Regions from separate parts of the Homo sapiens genome. Here region 1 is linked to region 2. The links come from fine-mapping of genetic effects on gene expression. Tissue or cell type: cerebellum. Region 2 holds a variant in brackets; the other region holds the start of a gene. All regions are shown on one strand. Distances are from middle to middle.

Evidence for each region. PIP is the estimated chance that this variant, and not a neighbour inherited with it, causes the effect.
Region 1: it holds the start of RAB27A, and the variant in region 2 is fine-mapped to the expression of RAB27A in cerebellum (GTEx, PIP above 0.99). The same link has a PIP of 0.9 or more in anterior cingulate cortex and nucleus accumbens.

What each region holds. Positions count from the first base shown.
Region 1 is chr15:55,286,499-55,294,600 of GRCh38, forward strand. It overlaps RAB27A (RAB27A, member RAS oncogene family), which reads right to left and starts at 3,315. Exons shown (of 7, transcript NM_183235.3): 1 at 3,218-3,315. RefSeq lists a silencer at 3,003-3,532 and an enhancer at 3,633-3,782.
Region 2 is chr15:55,390,855-55,398,960 of GRCh38, forward strand. The region is part of intron 1 of CCPG1 (cell cycle progression 1); the gene reads right to left. All of the region lies in intron 8 of DNAAF4-CCPG1 (DNAAF4-CCPG1 readthrough (NMD candidate)), which reads right to left. Among named protein-coding and RNA genes, the nearest start is that of CCPG1, 13 kb to the right of the region's middle. The variant G/C (reference allele first, on the strand shown) is at 3,973.

The DNA of each region.
Region 1 (8,102 bases), 100 kb before region 2:
AGGCCTCTCCAGAAAAATGACTTTTCACCTGAATGAAATAAATAAGAAAGCCATGCAGACATCTGAGGGGAAGAGCATTCCAGGCAGAGGAAACAAGTGCAAAGGTCCTGAGGTATGGCTGGAGCAGAGTCAGCAAAGGCAAGAGTGATAGCAGATGAAGCCGCACTCCATGCAAGGGTTGTATAGACCATGGTGAGGACTCTGTCACTTCTGAGATAAAAAGCCACTGGAGAGTTTCAAGCAGAGTGACATAATAGACTCTGGCTGCTGTGTTAAGAATAGAGTGTGGAGCAGTAAGGGTGGAAGCAGGGAAGCCCTTCAGAAGGCTTTTGCAGTAATCCAGGTGACAGAGATGATAGAACTTGGTGGAAGCAGCAGAAGTGGTGAGAAATGGTTATCATCCTAGATGTATTCTTTTTTTTTTTTTTTTTTTTTTTTTGAGACGGACTCACACTCTGTCGCCCAGGCTGGAGTGCAATGGCACGATCTTAGCTCACTGCAACCTCCGCCTCCTGGGTTCAAGCGATTCTCCTGCCTCAGCCTCCTGAGTAGCTGTGATTACAGGCACCCACCACCACGCCCCGCTAATTTTTGTATTTTTAGTAGATACAGGGCTTCACCATGTTGGCCAGCCTGGTCTTGAACTCCTGACCTCACGTGATCCACCTGTCTCGGCCTCCCAAAGTGCTGCGATTACAGGCGTGAGCCACCGCACCCGGCCTGCTGAGGAATTTAATGTGGGGTATAAGAGAAAGAATCAAGAGTGATTTCAGGGTGTTTGGTGTGAGCATCTGGAAGAGTGAAGTTGCCATTCACTAAGATGGAGAAGACTAGGGGAAAAGCAGCTTTGGGAGAGAAAACTCAAAAATCTGGCTCCTAGAGATTGTTGCTCACTTTAAAACCCTTACATCTATTTTAGAACCAAAACAATAGAAATTGAGAAGCTGACTTTAAATTTCATGTGGAAGGCCAGGCATGGTGGCTCATGCCTATGATCACAGCACTTTGGGAGGCTGAGGCAGACAGATCACCTGAGATCGGGAGTCCGAGACCAGCCTGACCAACATGGAGAAACCCTGTCTCTACTAAAAATATAAAATTAGCCAGGCATGGTGGCACATGCCCGTAATCCCAGCTACTCAGGAGGATGAGGCAGGAGAATCACTTGAACCAGGGAGGCGGAGGTTGCAGTGAGCTGAGATCGTGCCATTGCACTCCAGCCTGGTAAATAAGAGCAAAACTCCATCTCGAAAAAAAAAAAAAATTCATATGGAAATTCAAGGGACTGGATAGTCAAAACAATCTTGAAAAAGAACAAGGTTGGAGGACTCACATATCCTGATTTCAAAACACTATGTAGCTACAATAATCAAGGTAGTATGATACTAGCCTGAGGACAGACATACAGATCAATGGAATAGAACTGACAGTCCAGAAATAAACCTTTACATTCATGGTCAATTTATCTCAACAGAGGTGCCAAAACTATTCAAAGAGGAACAGTCTTTTAAACAAATGGTGCTGAAAGAACTGGATATCCACATGCAAAAAGTTGAAGTCAGACCCCCTGCCTCACACCATATTTAAAAATTAACTTAAAATGGGTCAAAGAATGAAATGTAAGAGCTAAAAACTATAAAACTTTTAGAAGAAAACATAAGTATAAATCTTCATGATCTTGAATTTGACAATGTTTTCTTAACTTTGACATCAAAAGCACAAACAACAAAAGGAAAAATAGGCTCGGTGCAGTGGCTCAAGCCTATAATCCCAGCACTTTGGGAGGCTGACGCAGGTTGATCACTTGAGGTCAGGAGTTCAAGACCAGCCTGGCCAACATAGCAAAACCCCGCCTCTACTAAAAATACAAAAATTAGCCAAGCATGGTAGCACACACCTGTAATTCCAGCTACTCTGGAGTCTGAAGCAAAAGAATCACTTCAACCCAGGAAGCGGAGGTTGCTGTGAGCCAAGATCATGCCACCGCATTCCTACCTGGGCGACAGAGTGAGACTCTGTCTCAAAAGAAAAAAAAGGAAAAATAGATTAAATATACTTCAACGAAATTAAAAATCAAGGCACGTCACAGAAATTAAGGAAGGAAGAAAAAAGGGAGGGAGGGAGGAAGAGAGAATGGTAGAAAGGAAGGAAGAAAAAAGTAGGAATGAAAACATAAAACAACATAAACCAACATAAAATACAGAAAATAATGATCCTCAGTCAAGTTCCTTCAGCATTATATTAACCTTTCTTCACTTCTAACCATCTGCAGAAACTGTTTTCCAGATTGTATTTTCCCTCTAAAGCAAGTTTTTAAGGCCGAAAAAAAAAAAAGAACAAGAACAGTGAGTGGAGAATCAACAAATTTAATTAGCAATGATTACAGAAAACTTAAATAGCACACACAACTCTATAATCCCTCTACCCCCAATTCCAACATCTGACTGATCAACCAACCATAAAATGTGAGAATCCATCCAGAAGGAAAGAACAGCTGTTAAGCTGTAGGGGTAAGGACCCTGTGGCAGAAGACCCTGAGGCCATGTGGGCCCAGGTGGCCAGCAGGAGCGGAAAGGCTGGGAAGGCTCCTCAGTCCAGGGCTCACAAGACTCCCTTCGCTTCAGGCCTGACTTTGCTGAACTGGTGATCTATTGGGACAGAGACAGGCTTTGGCAATAGTTACCAAAGCCTGTCATCATATCTGCACCACCACCAGTCCCGACCGGAGGGCCTGGCTGCCAGGTAGTTTTCAGTCTAACTGACAGGAGAAGAGAGAGCCCCTCCCTCGCAGCTAGTCTGCAGTCCAGACCCTCACCAACCGGAGGGCAACCAGGTTAAACAGTTAAACTGAAAGCAAAAGAGGGAGGAATGAACCGGGGGGCGTGCGGGAGGTCGGGGACTTTCCTCCTTTCCCTCCTGGAAAGTTTCCTACCCCTGATGGGCATCCTCCCACCTGGATGCAACCCGGAGGCGATCTGAGACCCTGGCCGGACCTGGGACCGCACCTGGCCAGCACCAGGCAGTTGTCATCACTGGGGTCTGCGCTGAGGGCCTGGGAGAGAAGCCACTCTTCAGGCGGGCTCGGGCGCCTGGAGGCGGGGAGGAAGGGCGGCGCACTCGGACCCCAGCCCTAGGACGGCCCCAGGGGGACGCCTCGCTCGGCCCTCCCGGAGGGACCGGACCCGCCGCGCGCCTCCCGCTCCTCAGGCCCCCTCACCTGGCTCGCCCCGCCGTCCTGTCCCCGCCTGGCTCGGGTCCTCGCGCGCCGCGTCCACCCGCCGCCGGCCTTTTTTGGGTCGTTGGCGGGTATTTTCCGCCTGGCCCCACATCACTTCCCGTAAAGGAGAGCGAGGTGGGGCGGGACCTTCTCTCCTCCACCTCCCGCCTTCTCCTGTCACCTCGGGAGCGGCCCCCGCCCGGCTGGCGGGGGGCGGGGTGCTGTCGCGCTCTCCCCGGCGGCCGCGCCTCCGAGGGGTCCTCTGTGAGCCCCGAAAAGGCCCCGCTCGCCTCCTTTGTCCCAACACTAGTTTCCGCTGCCCCATTCTGGAAGGCGCTACAAAATATAGGAGTGTTTTCGTTTTGGGACACAGGAGGGACATTTACAAACTGCACCAAGGACCGGTGCGCGGCGAGGTGTCGTTTGGGGACTCTCCCCTATTCACCTCCCCAAAAAGCCATGTTCTAAGGGTGTTTTCCACGGCATCAGTTCGCGGTCGCCACCGTAGCAGCCGGAGGTGCCGGGCGTACTCACGCCGGCCCCGCCCGAGGTTCCCGAGTCCGCGCGGCTCCTGAGGCGGCGTCCCAGGCCCGGCCCTGCCCCCGGCTTCCCGCCCCTGCGGCTCCTGGCTTAGGTCGGCCTGGACACGGCGTTTCCGGGGCAAGGGAATGCCCAGGATTCCTGGAAATAACATGGGAGAAAAATAAGTAAAAAATTTCGCAGGAAAAAAATCAATGTAATTCCGGGAGGAAATGGCAAACGGAGTCTCTGCTCACACTGTGTAATTCAAGAATATAAAACCACTGTAAATTTCTAAGAGTGTTAGAGCAATGAGTTTAAAAAGAAGAAAACTACAGTATGTTAAGGAACCGCCTCTGTCGGAAGAAACCTGCGCGCCTTTGCTGCCACCCAGCGGCTCTCTTCTCCCAGCGCCAACGGTGTCGCTCCGGCCTGCGGGGTAGTGAACCTGGGACTGCGTAGGGGGTCAGACCTCGTGGTTCCCACTCAGAGGCAGCCAAGTTCATCCCTCTCAGTGGCCAGGAGGTGTGAACAGCAGCCCTTGGGCCTGTCCCTATGGAGTCTAAGGCAAAGGCCCTTTGAACCAAATGTTTCCACTTCTAAGCAGAGTAAAATGTTGAGAAGCCTTAGTTCAGCTTCCCTTCTGCCTTCTAAGCCGTCTCGCTGACTTGTGTCTACCTCCACCGCAAATTCCAGCTGTCGCAGGCCCACCCGGTCAACTCCATCACCTTTCCAGTCTGTAGCTACTCACAGTTGGCATTACAGCAGTTAGCTTCTCAGGTGGGTCCAATTTACAAAATCACATATAGGATGAACCATATGAAATTACAAACAGTTGGCAATTTCATACATTTGATATAACATTTCCAGGCAAACATAACACAGTAAACTCGGGTTTAGAGATAACAAATGTCCTAACAGGTTGATAACTTCAAGAGCTCTTCCCGTGTGAGAGAAGGGCCATCAGACTGTTGGTGAGGTTAAGAGAGAAAAAGGCCGGGTTAGGTGGCTCACGCCTGTAATCCCAGCACTTTGGGAGCCCGAGGCCGGCAGATCACGAAGTCAGGAGATCGAGACCATCCTGGCTAACACGGTGAAACCCCGTCTCTACTAAAAATACAAAAAATTAGCAGGGCGTCGTGGCACGCGCCTGTAGTCTCAGCTACTTAGGAGGCTGAGGGCAGGAGAATCGCTTGAACCCGAGAGGTGGAGGTTGCAATGAGCCGAGATGGCGCCACTGCACTCCAGCCTGGGCGACCGAGCGAGACTCTGTTTCAAAAAAAAAAAAAAAAAAAAAAAAAAAAAAAAAGGGAAAAGGTAGCCTCATGTTCATGTCCAGAGGAATAGTCCTGGGAATCACTGATCAGCTAAAATCTGGGAAACCAATAATGTAGTAATTGCTAATGGCTGATATGGCACAGGGAAAGCCTGCCTTCAGCTTTCCCCACTCCTGTGGCCAGGCAAGGCTCTCACCAGGAGTATACCAGACAGGAGATCAGAAAACCTAGGATGGTGCTATGGCCCATTCATCACCCATTCATTCACTCATTCATCAAGTCAGGCACCCTATTAGTAAACAAGGTAAACTGGTCCCTGACGTCAGGACTTACTTGAGAGACCATCGAATAAGTAGGCAACTCCAGTAGTGAGATAAGAGCCTCAATAAAGGAAGTTAAAGAGTGTTATTGGAGCACAGATAAATGACACCAAATCAAGAGAAAGTTAAGGATAAACTTAGAATGAATGAGGGCAAGGGGCAAGGGAGAAGAGAATTCCAGGAAAATGGAGCAGAGGGAAGGCCTGGAAGCAAAAGATAGCATTCAACACTGGAGCAACAGGAAGAGGTTCAGAAAAGCTGAAAGACTGAAAGCAATCAGAAAAGAAAATGGAGAAATAACAGAGGCTGTGCGGTGAATAACCCTGCAATGATGATCATGATCATAACTAACATTTCTTGATCATTTACTATGAGTCAGCCAATATGCTAATAGTTTTGACTACATCACCTCATACGTGTCTTACAACTACTTTATGAAGTAGGTACTATTCTTACCTCTGTATTACAGATGAGGAAACTGAGTCCTAAAGCGATTAAGCAGTCTGACCAAGATCATGCAGCTAATAAGTGGCACAGCCAGGCCTAAAACTCAGAACTCAAGTTTTTAATGGTTCTAAGAATGGGTCTGAGAGGTCAATTAGCACGCTGTAATCCAAGTGAGGGATAATAGCGATCTGATTACGGCAGTGGCCATAAGGATGGAGATGAATGGACATATTTGACATATTTAGGAGAGTGAATCAAGAGGACTGGGATGTAGGGGTGTGAAAGAGAGGCAGTAGTCCATGGGGATGCCCAGTTTCTGGTTTGGGCAACAAGAAACCATTAAGCAACAGGAAGAAAACCTAGTTGCAACCAGGAGGAAGGGTGAAATAGGCCATAGTGATGAGTTTAGGACATTTCCATTTTGACACACTAGCACCAACAGAATATCCAAGTGAAGCTGTTTAGTATGTAGTCAAACAGGCCTATCTGAAGCACAGAAAACATGTGCTGTAGCTATTACCCAAAAGGTACTGGAAGGCATTAGAATCAATGAGCTAATCTAGAAAGTGAGCTGAGAGGGCAATAGGCTTGTTACAGAACCCAGATGAACACCCAGCATTTAAGGCATGAGCAATGGAAGTTCAAAAAGGAATCCAAAAAAAGAGTATCCAGAGAGGTAGGAAGAAAACAAGGAGAGTGTTATTACAGAAACTAAGTACACTGAACACATCTCGTGTGTCAGTTCAAAGTCATCTCTACGCCACTTCTTACTGCAGCCACAGAATCGATCACAGTATACCTCTTGCTTCCCACACTGGGGCTTTTCTGACACTGCTACTTGCAACATGGAGAGTTCTGCCTCCAGTTTTCCTAATAGAATTAAAGTGGATGGAATCAGTAAGAATTCATGGATTTTAATAAATAAATATAGATATATGTATGTGTATATGTATGTATTATCTAGCTCTGTCTGCTAAGAGGTCCTAGAAGCAATTATATCAAAGTAGCTACGAGTACACTTAGCACCTGGATGTTGATTTCTTAATATCCCTTTCCAACAAAAGGAACCAATTACATAATATTATATATGGAAAATCCTAAATAAAAAATCTATTAGTGCTAATAAATGAAATAAGCAAAGATGCAAGATACTAGATCAACACATAAAAATCAGTTGCATTTCAATGTATTAGAAATGAACAATTGAAAAGGAAACTTTAAAAGTTCCATTTACAATAATATCAAAAAGAATAAAATACCTAGGCATAAATTTAACCAAGAAGGTGCAGGATTTATACATTGAAAACCACAAACCACTACTGAAAAAAAAAGAAAATCTAAATAAATGAAAAGACATGGCCAGGCGCGGTGGCTCACGCTTGTAATCCCAGCACTTTGGGAGGCTGAGGCGGGTGGATTACCTGAGGTCAGGAGTTTGAGACCAGCCTGGCCAACTTGGCGAAACCCGTCTCTACTAAAAATACAAAATTTAGCCGGGCGTGGTGGTGGGTGCCTGTAATCCCAGCTACTCGGGTGGTTGAAGCGGGAGAATTGCTTGAACCCGGGAGGTGGAGGTTGCAGTAAGCCGAGATCGTGCAACTGCACTCCAGCTTGGGTGATGAGTGAAACTTCTCAGATAAAAAAAAAAGAAAAGAAAATACATTTAATGTTCATGGAATCAAACACATAATATTGTGAAGATGGCTATATTCCCCAGATAGAGCTACAGATTCAACAACATTTTTGAAGAAATGGAAAAGTGTATGCTAAAATGCATATGAAATTGCAAAGGACCCAAAAATTTAAAAAGTTCATGCTTCCTGATTTCAAAATGTACTACAAAGGTATAGTAATTAAAAAAAAAACCTATGGTATTGATATAAAGACATATAGATAAGTGGAATAGGCTTGAGAGTCTAGAAATAAAATTATGCATCTATAGTCAAGATCTTTCAATGGAGAAAGAAGTTTCCTCAGCAAATGGTACTGGGAGAACTGGATATCTACATGCAAAAGAATGAAACTGAGGCCTGGCGCGGTAGCTCACGCCTGTAATTTCAATACTTTGGGAGGCCAACATAGGTAGAGCCCTTGAGCTCAGGAATTCCAGACCCAACTGGGCAACATGGTGAAACCCTGTCTCTACTAAAAATAGAAAAATTAGCCAGACGTGGTGGCTTGCACCTGTAGTCCCAACTACTCGGGAAGCTGAGATGGGAGGATCGCTTGAGCCCAGGAAGCGGAGGTTGCAGTGAGCCAAGATCGTGCCACTACACACCAGCCTGGGCAACAGAACAAAACCCTGTCTCCGAAAAAAAAAAA
Region 2 (8,106 bases):
TTTAATGTTATGACAAGAGCATTTTGTAATAGGCTCACCTGAGGTCATCTAATTGTTTTATTTCTAATTTCAATTAAGGCCCAGGCAGTTTATAACTCTACAAATTTAAAAGTAAACTTACAGAAAACTACTACGGTAAAATAAATTTTTTCTGTCCAGTCAGTAGAGGTTATCCAAAAAGCTACAGTTTAAATACCCTGTAGGATATTAACCACGTTTATATCTTAGCAATTTTATTTCAGCATTCTTTATTAAACTGACTATATTTCTTTTCTTTATTTTGAGTGTGACAGGGTCCCGTTCTGTCATACAGGCTTGAGTGCAATGGCGTAATCATGGCTCACCACAACCCTGACCTCCCAAGCTCAATCGATCCTCCTGCCTCAGCCCCATAAGTAGATGGGCATGTGCCACTATGCCCAGCTAATTTTTTGTATTTTTTGTAGAGACAACGTTTGGCCATGTTGGCCAGGCTGGTCTGGAAGGCCTGGCCTCAAGCAATCCGCCCTCCTCAGCTTCCCAAAGCGCTGGGATTACAGGCGTGAGCCACTGCACCTGGCCTAAACTGACTATATAAATCCCAATTTCTCATTCCACTATTTTTCAGGACTTTCAAAAAAGTTTATGATATGTATCAATGTCTATTTGTATGAGAATCATGTTTATAATAGCTTGAAAATTATGCAATGACAGAAATACACAAAGACTGAGCAATTAAATTTGCAGGGGGAAAGGAGAATGATCAAGGAAATCTCTATAAATGAGGCTGCAAATTTGATAGCATTTTTTAAAGTAAATTAACAGTTGTCAAAATTTAAAAATTGAGATACTACATTAAAATGAAGATTTCTGGAGCCGGAAGCAGTGGAGAGTGCCTATTAATCCCAGCTACCTGGGAGACTGAGGAAGGAAGATCCCTTGAGGCCAGGAGTTCAAGGCTGTTAAGAGCCATAATGATCATGCCTGTGAACTGCCATTGCACTCCAGACTGGGTAATACAGTGAAACCTTGACTCTTTAAAAAAAAAAAAAAAGGGGGGGGGGGGCTAGGTGTGGTAGCTCACGTCTGTAACCCCAACACGGAGAGGCCAAGACGGAAGGACCGCTCAAGTCCAAGAGTTCAAGATCAGCCTGGGCAACATTGCAAAAAACAAACAAAACGATTTCTGATTCCTAAAAAAAAAAAAAAAAAATCAAAAGATCTGATGACAAGGAAAGATGTCCCAGTGAAAAAGGAAAAAGCATCACACAGGAAAAACAAAGGCAGAAAAATGTAAAAGAATATGAAAGTTCTTTAAAAAAATAAAAAATAAAAAAGACAATCTAGTACAAATATAGTTTAAAAGATCAGATTTGATTTTTTTTTTTTTTTTTTTTGAGACGGAGTCTCACTCTGTCACCAGGCTGGAGTGCAGTGGCGTCATCTCGGCTCACCACAACCTCTGACTCCCTGGTTCAAGCGATTCTCCTGCCTCAGCCTCCCGAGTAGCGGGGATTACAGGCACGCGCCACCATGCCCAGCTAATTTTTGTACTTTTAGTAGAGACGGGGTTTCACCATCTCTACTAAAGGCCAGGAGATTCTCCATCTCCTGACATCATGATCCACCCAACTCAGCCTCCCAAAGTGCTGGGATTACAAGCATGAAGCCACCGCACCTGGCCATGATTTTTTTTTTAATTTTTGAGACAGGATTTCGCTTTGTCACCCAGGCTGGAGGGCAGTGACATGAACACAGTTCATTGCAGCCTTGACCTCCCAGGCTCAAGCTACCCTCCCACCTCAGCCTCCTGAGTAGCTGGAACTACAGGTGTGCGCCACCATGCCTAATATTTGTATTTTTTGTAAAGACAGGGTTTTGCCATGTTGCCCAGGTTGGTTTCACACTCCTGAGCTCAAGTGATCCACCTTTCTTGGCCTCTCAAAGTACTAGGATGACAGGCATAAGCGGTTGTATCTGGTCAGATTTGGCCAGGTGCAGTGGCTCACGCCTATAATCCCAGCACTTTGGGAGGCCAAGGCGGGTAGATCATAAGGGCAGGAGTTCAACACCAGCCTGGCAAAGATGATGAAACCCTGTCTCTACTAAAAATACAAAAAATTAGCCGGGCATGGTGGCAAGCACCTGTAATCCCAGCTACTCGAGAGGCTGAGGCAGGAGAATTGCTTGAACCCAGGAGGCGGATGTTGCGGTGAGCCAAGATGGCGCCATTGCACTCCAGCCTGGGCAACAAGAGGGAAACTCCGTCTCAAAATAAATAAATTAATTAATTAAATTAAATAGCATATATTAAGATGGCAGGGCCAAGAGTGGCGGCTTGCACCTGTAACAGCACTTTCGGAGGCTGAGGTGGGAGGATCACTTGAGGCCAGGCGTTCAAGACCAGGCTGGGCAACATAGTGAGACTCCCCATCTCTACCAAAAAAAATTTTTTAATCAGCAGGACATGGTGGCCCACACCTGTTGTCCTAGCTACTTGGGAAGCCGAGGCAGGAGGATCATTTGAGCTCAGGAGTTCAAAGTTGCAGTGAGCTATGACTGCATGACTGCACTCCAGCCTGGGTAACAGAGCAAGACCCTGTCTCAAAAAAATGTTTTTTTTCAAGATAGGGAAGCAACTCAACAACCCTAGACCTGTGGGATGCAAGGAAGCAACATAATATTCCATGAAAAATATGAGCATCTGAACTTAACCAGTGTTGATGAGGGAAAGGGTTTAGAAGATAGCGGGAAGGGTTTTGAAGAGATCTGAGAAGACATGAAAGGTTATTTTATTATTTTTATCATTATTTGGATGCAAGGTCTCACTCTGTCACTCAGGCTGGAGTACAGTAGTATGAACACGGCTTGCTGAGATGGGAAAATAGGGTCTGGAGGCAGGGAACATTAGGCCGATTCACACTTCAGCTATGACAGGAAATATCCTCTCCATAGGGCATACACCAAGTAAATGACTTTGTAACTTTACTTCACCTCTCCATTCACATAGGGTATACACCAAGTAACCAATGGAAGCCTCTAGAGGGTATTGAAACCCCCACAAATTCTATAACGGTGCCCTTGAGCCCCTACGCTAGGGCCCGCCACCACACTGTGGAGTGTACTTTCATTTTCAATAAATCTCTGACTTCATCCCTTCCTTGCTTTGTCTGTGTGTTTTGTCCAGTTCTTTGTTCAAGATGCCAAGAACCTGGACACCCTCCACCAGTAACACAGCCTCAAACTCCCAGGTTCAAGTAGATGCTCCCATCTCAGCCTCCCAAGTAGCTAGGACTATACAGGTATGTGCCACCCTGCCCAGCTAATTTCTTTTTAAGAGTCGGGGTCTTGCTAGTTTGGTAGGCTGGTCTCAAACTTCTGGGCTCAAGTGATCCACCCACCTCGGCCTCCCAAAGTGCTGGGATTACAGGTGTGAGCCACTGTACACAGCCTAAAGATTATTTTATTAAAGGACTGAATAACCAACTATATAAGGGAGAAAGTGTAGGATAGCTCACAGGTTTCTGGTTTAAGTGACTGGGTAACTGGAAGAATTCTATATGAAACAAGAAGTAGGTGAGGGCTTTGTGATAAGAAAAACTGGCTGAAGCCTAAAAAGCATTCTTTCTCCACTGTGTGAAAGCTTCCCTCCTTCCCTTTGCCTGCTCCCATCTTCTAACAGATTACAAAAAAAAGTAAAATACATTACTGACTTGGGACAACTTACCATACTTGAATTTCTCAAATCAATAAGCCCACTTTAATCAGGCCCCAGTTTAATGCTTTGTTTACTTCCTTCAAGGAAAGATAACATTGAAACCAGCCAATTATCCCACAGAACTGATCTTTATGGTTTCTCTGAATAAATACAGAAATTGATCCTCACAGTCTTAAAACTTGAGAAAGTTCTATTTGTGTTATCTAAGCTCCTTTCTTAGGAAACAAACCATCAGGCCTCCTAGATAGTATTAAGAAGCTGAAACTTACTTAACA[G/C]ATCACTGCAACTGGACAATGAGAAGCCAGAGCCTGCATGATTGCTTAACTGACCACCTGCTGCCTGTTGACCAACTTCTCTTCCTCACCCCTCTCTAATTCCTGTTTGCCCACACATGGTTACATTTCTTCTCTGCTATATAGACCTCTAATTTTAGTCAGTCAGAGATGGATTTGAGACTGAGATGGATTTGAGACTGATCTCCCATGTCCTTGGCTGCAGCACCCAATTAAAGCCTTCTTCCCTGGCAATACCCGTCTCTGTGATTGGCTTTCTGTGCGGCAAGCAGCAGGACCTAGACCAAACCCCTGGTGTTTTGGTAACACCATCCAGCCCAAAAGAGAAAAAGATTTCCCGCTGGCCCTAACACCACCATGACAATTTGGATAAGCAAAACTAACAGGCTTACTAAAGAACCCTATTAATTCAACTGTTCTCAAAATGTTGGGCGTGTACTACAATCAAAGGAAAAAAAAAAAAGTAACTTTTTAAGCCCTATCCTAGACACAGTGAATATGAAAGCCCCCTGGCAGTTTGAACCTCCCCATTATAGCTAGAGATCTTCAAATGATAATCTCATTATGTAATTCCTTTAAAATGTTAAGATTTTCTTCAAGATAATGCCCCAAAGCCTTGAATATCAAGTATTTTATCTCTAGCTCTCATCTCTTTTAATTCATTCCCGCTTTGCCCAACCTTCTCAGTTCCCCTCAAAATGCTTGGCTTTGTCTTTACTCCAGGGCTTTACATATTCTGATCAGTTGCCCATCCCCTTTACCTCCACCGAAACTCCTCTGCTTGTCTCAGCTAACGGTTCATTTCCTTTGAGAACCATCCCTTGACCCCATCCCTAAGACTCTTATTATTTTCTGCATCTGGCACTTAATATAGAATATTGTGCTGTAATTGCTTGTTTACCAGCCTATAATGTATTCCCAACACATATTGAATGAATGCTAAATACATATTAAGCAATCAATAAACAAGAAAGGTAACCACGTCTGGGTGATAGTGCAGTTAATTGTTCTTTACAGAACTCAAAATTAGGCTGGGTGCGGTGGCTCACACCTGTAATCCCAGCACTTTGGGAGGCCAAGGCAGGCAGATCAGGAGGTCAGGAGTTAAAGACCAACCTGGCCAACATAGTGAAACCCCATCTCTACTAAAAATACAAAAATTAGTCGGGCATGCTGGCGTGCGCCTGTAGTCTCAGCTACTCAGGAGCCTGAGTCAGGAGAATTGCTTGAAACCAGGAGGTGGAGGTTGCAGTGAGCCAAGATCGCACCACTGCACTCCAGCCTGGGCAACAGAGCAAGACTCCACCTCCAAAAAAAAAAAAAAAAAAGAACTCAAAATTCTGGAGAAATCCATGAGCTTCCTCTCCCATTAATCTGACCATTGGTAAATGTATAAACCCTCCCCATTTTAAGAGCTTTACTAATAGTAATTTAGAAATAAGCAGAATTTACAGGACAGTTACAAAGGCTAAGAAATCATACGGTTATAAAAAGAAGAATACTTTGTGAAGACAATAAACTTGAAGCTCTGTTTAGGCTCAGGCTTCCTTTTATTCCTCAGAGTAGTTTCTTTAACTCGATCTCTAGTCATATATTTCCAATTGCTTTTGATGTCCCCTTGCAGGTTTCTCAAGTGTTTAACACACAACAGCTACAATACTGAAATCATCTTCCTGCTGCTCCTATTTCTGCTAACTCACAGAATTGCAGTAGCCAAAAACAATACAGCCATTACAAGCAAGAGTCACCACACATTCAGGTCAAAAACCTTAGACTTATGTCGACAAAAACAGTCAAACCCTGTAAAATATTTGAGGAGATTTATTCTGGGATAGATTTATGCTGGGATAGAGAAGCTTAACTCTAAAAACGATGGTCAGGGCAAGCTTCATTGCTGAAGTATATGTGAGCAAAGATTTGAATGAGTGAGGCACCATTATATACAGTTAACTGGAGGAAGAGCATTTAAGAAATAGTAGCTATAAAGCTGAGATCAGAGCTCTACCTCTGAGAAACAGCAAGGAGGCCTGTGTGGATCGCCTAGCAGGAGAGAGGAGGAAAAGATTAAACACAAGATAAGCCGGGCGCGGTGGCTCACGCCTGTAATCCCAGCACTCCAGGCCGAGGTGGGCGGATCACGAGGTCAGGAGATCGAGACCATCCTGGCTAACACAGTGAAACTCTGTCTCTACAAAAAAACACAAAAAATTAGCCGGGCGATTAGCCGGGCGTGGTAGCGGGCGCCTGTAGTTCCAGCTACTTCGGACGCTGAGGCAGTAGAATGGCGTGAACCCGGGAGGCGGAGCTTGCAGTGAGCCGAGATGGCGCCACTGCACTCCAGCCTGGGCGACAGAGCGAGACTCCGTCTCAAAAAAAAACAAACAAAAAAAAAAACCCACAAGATAATAAACAGAGTGGTGGCAAGGGGACAGACTGAGTAGGGCTTACAGATCCTAAGACTCCTTTTAAAAAGCGTTTTAGCTTTACACTCTGAGAACTAAAAGTCACAGAAGCGTTTTGAGAAAAGGAATAAAAGATCACTCTGGCTACCTACTGGGACAGCATTGTGGGGGAGCAAAGGCAGAAGCAAGAAGTTCATTTGCATGGCTACTATGATAATCCAGGTGAGACATGATGGTGGTTTGGACTAGAATGGTGGCAGTGAAGACAGTGAGAAATGGACAGATTATACACGGATTTCAAAGGTACAGCAGCCAACAGGACTTCCTGATGTATTGAATATGGGGTATAAAGGATGACTCCTGGCCTCACCGAGTACTAGAATGGAATAGCTACTGAGGCAGAAAGACTTCAAAAAGAGCAGGTTATGAGAAGAAAATCAGTAAATTGGGCCGGGCATGGTGGCTCACACCTGTAATCCCAGCACTTTGGGAGGCCGAGGTGGGCAGATCACTTGACGTAAGGAGTTCATGACCAGCCTGACCAACATGGTGAAACCCTGTCTCTATTAAAAATACAAAAATTGGCCAGGTGGTCTGGTGGATGCCTGTAGTCCCAGCTACTCGGGAGGCTGAGGCAGGAGAATCGCCTGAACTCGGGAGGTGGAGGTTGCAGTGAGCCGAGACTATGCCACGGCACTCCAGCCTGGGAGACAGAACAAGACTCCATCTCAAGAAAAAAAAAGAAGAAGAAAAGGAAACCAGCAAATTGGTTTGGGGCATTTTAAATCTGAGATAGTTATTATCACATCCAAGAGGAAACATAAAGTAGGCGTCTGGAGACTGAATTCAGGGGAGAGTTAGAGGCTAAATAAGTCATTTAAAAACACTTTGGTGGAGCCTGTCAAAATCTGTAAGAACAACACAACAACAGTATCAATTTTACCTCATAAAATATAACTGGAATGAATATTACCTGATATGATGGTGCCCCTCATCATTCCTGGGTAGCTACATTTTACTATGAAAAAGGTGAGGTTTCCATTACCATTATATCTTCTAGAACTAGATAAGATGGAGAAGAATGGGAGCATTATTCTCCCACACGTCTACAATTCCGAAGTAAGGCAACCAATAGGCTATAGGCAAAGGCCTCAAAGTGCAGCTGTACTGTCATGTGACCAAAGATAAGCGAGTCAGTCTGGAGTGCTTTCAAGAACGTATTTGTAAAATACTTTTCAAAAGGTCTGGGTCTTTCACCTCCGCCAAAGGATATGAAAATGTCTGCTTTAAAACACATCACTTGAGAAAGGGAAGAGGATACAAGATCCCAACTAATGAAAACTTTTTTTTTTTTGAGACAGAGTCTCACTCTGTCTCCAGGCTGGAGAGCAGTGGCGCGATCTCGGCTCACTGCAACCTCTGCTTTCCGGGTTCAAGAGATTCTCCTGCCTCAGCCTCCCAAGTAACTGGGATTACAGGTGCGCACCACCATGCCGAGCTAATTTTTGTATTTTTAGTAGAGATGCGGTTTCACCATGTTGGCCAGGATGGTCTCGATCTCTTGACCTCATGATCCGCCTGCCTTGGCCTCCCAAAGTGCTGGGATTACAGGTGTGAGCCACTGCGCCCAGCATGAAAACTTTTTTGAAGGCTACTTTTTGTCTAATAAACATATGAAAATATTTTAAATGAGCCTATCCTCATCCGGAACATG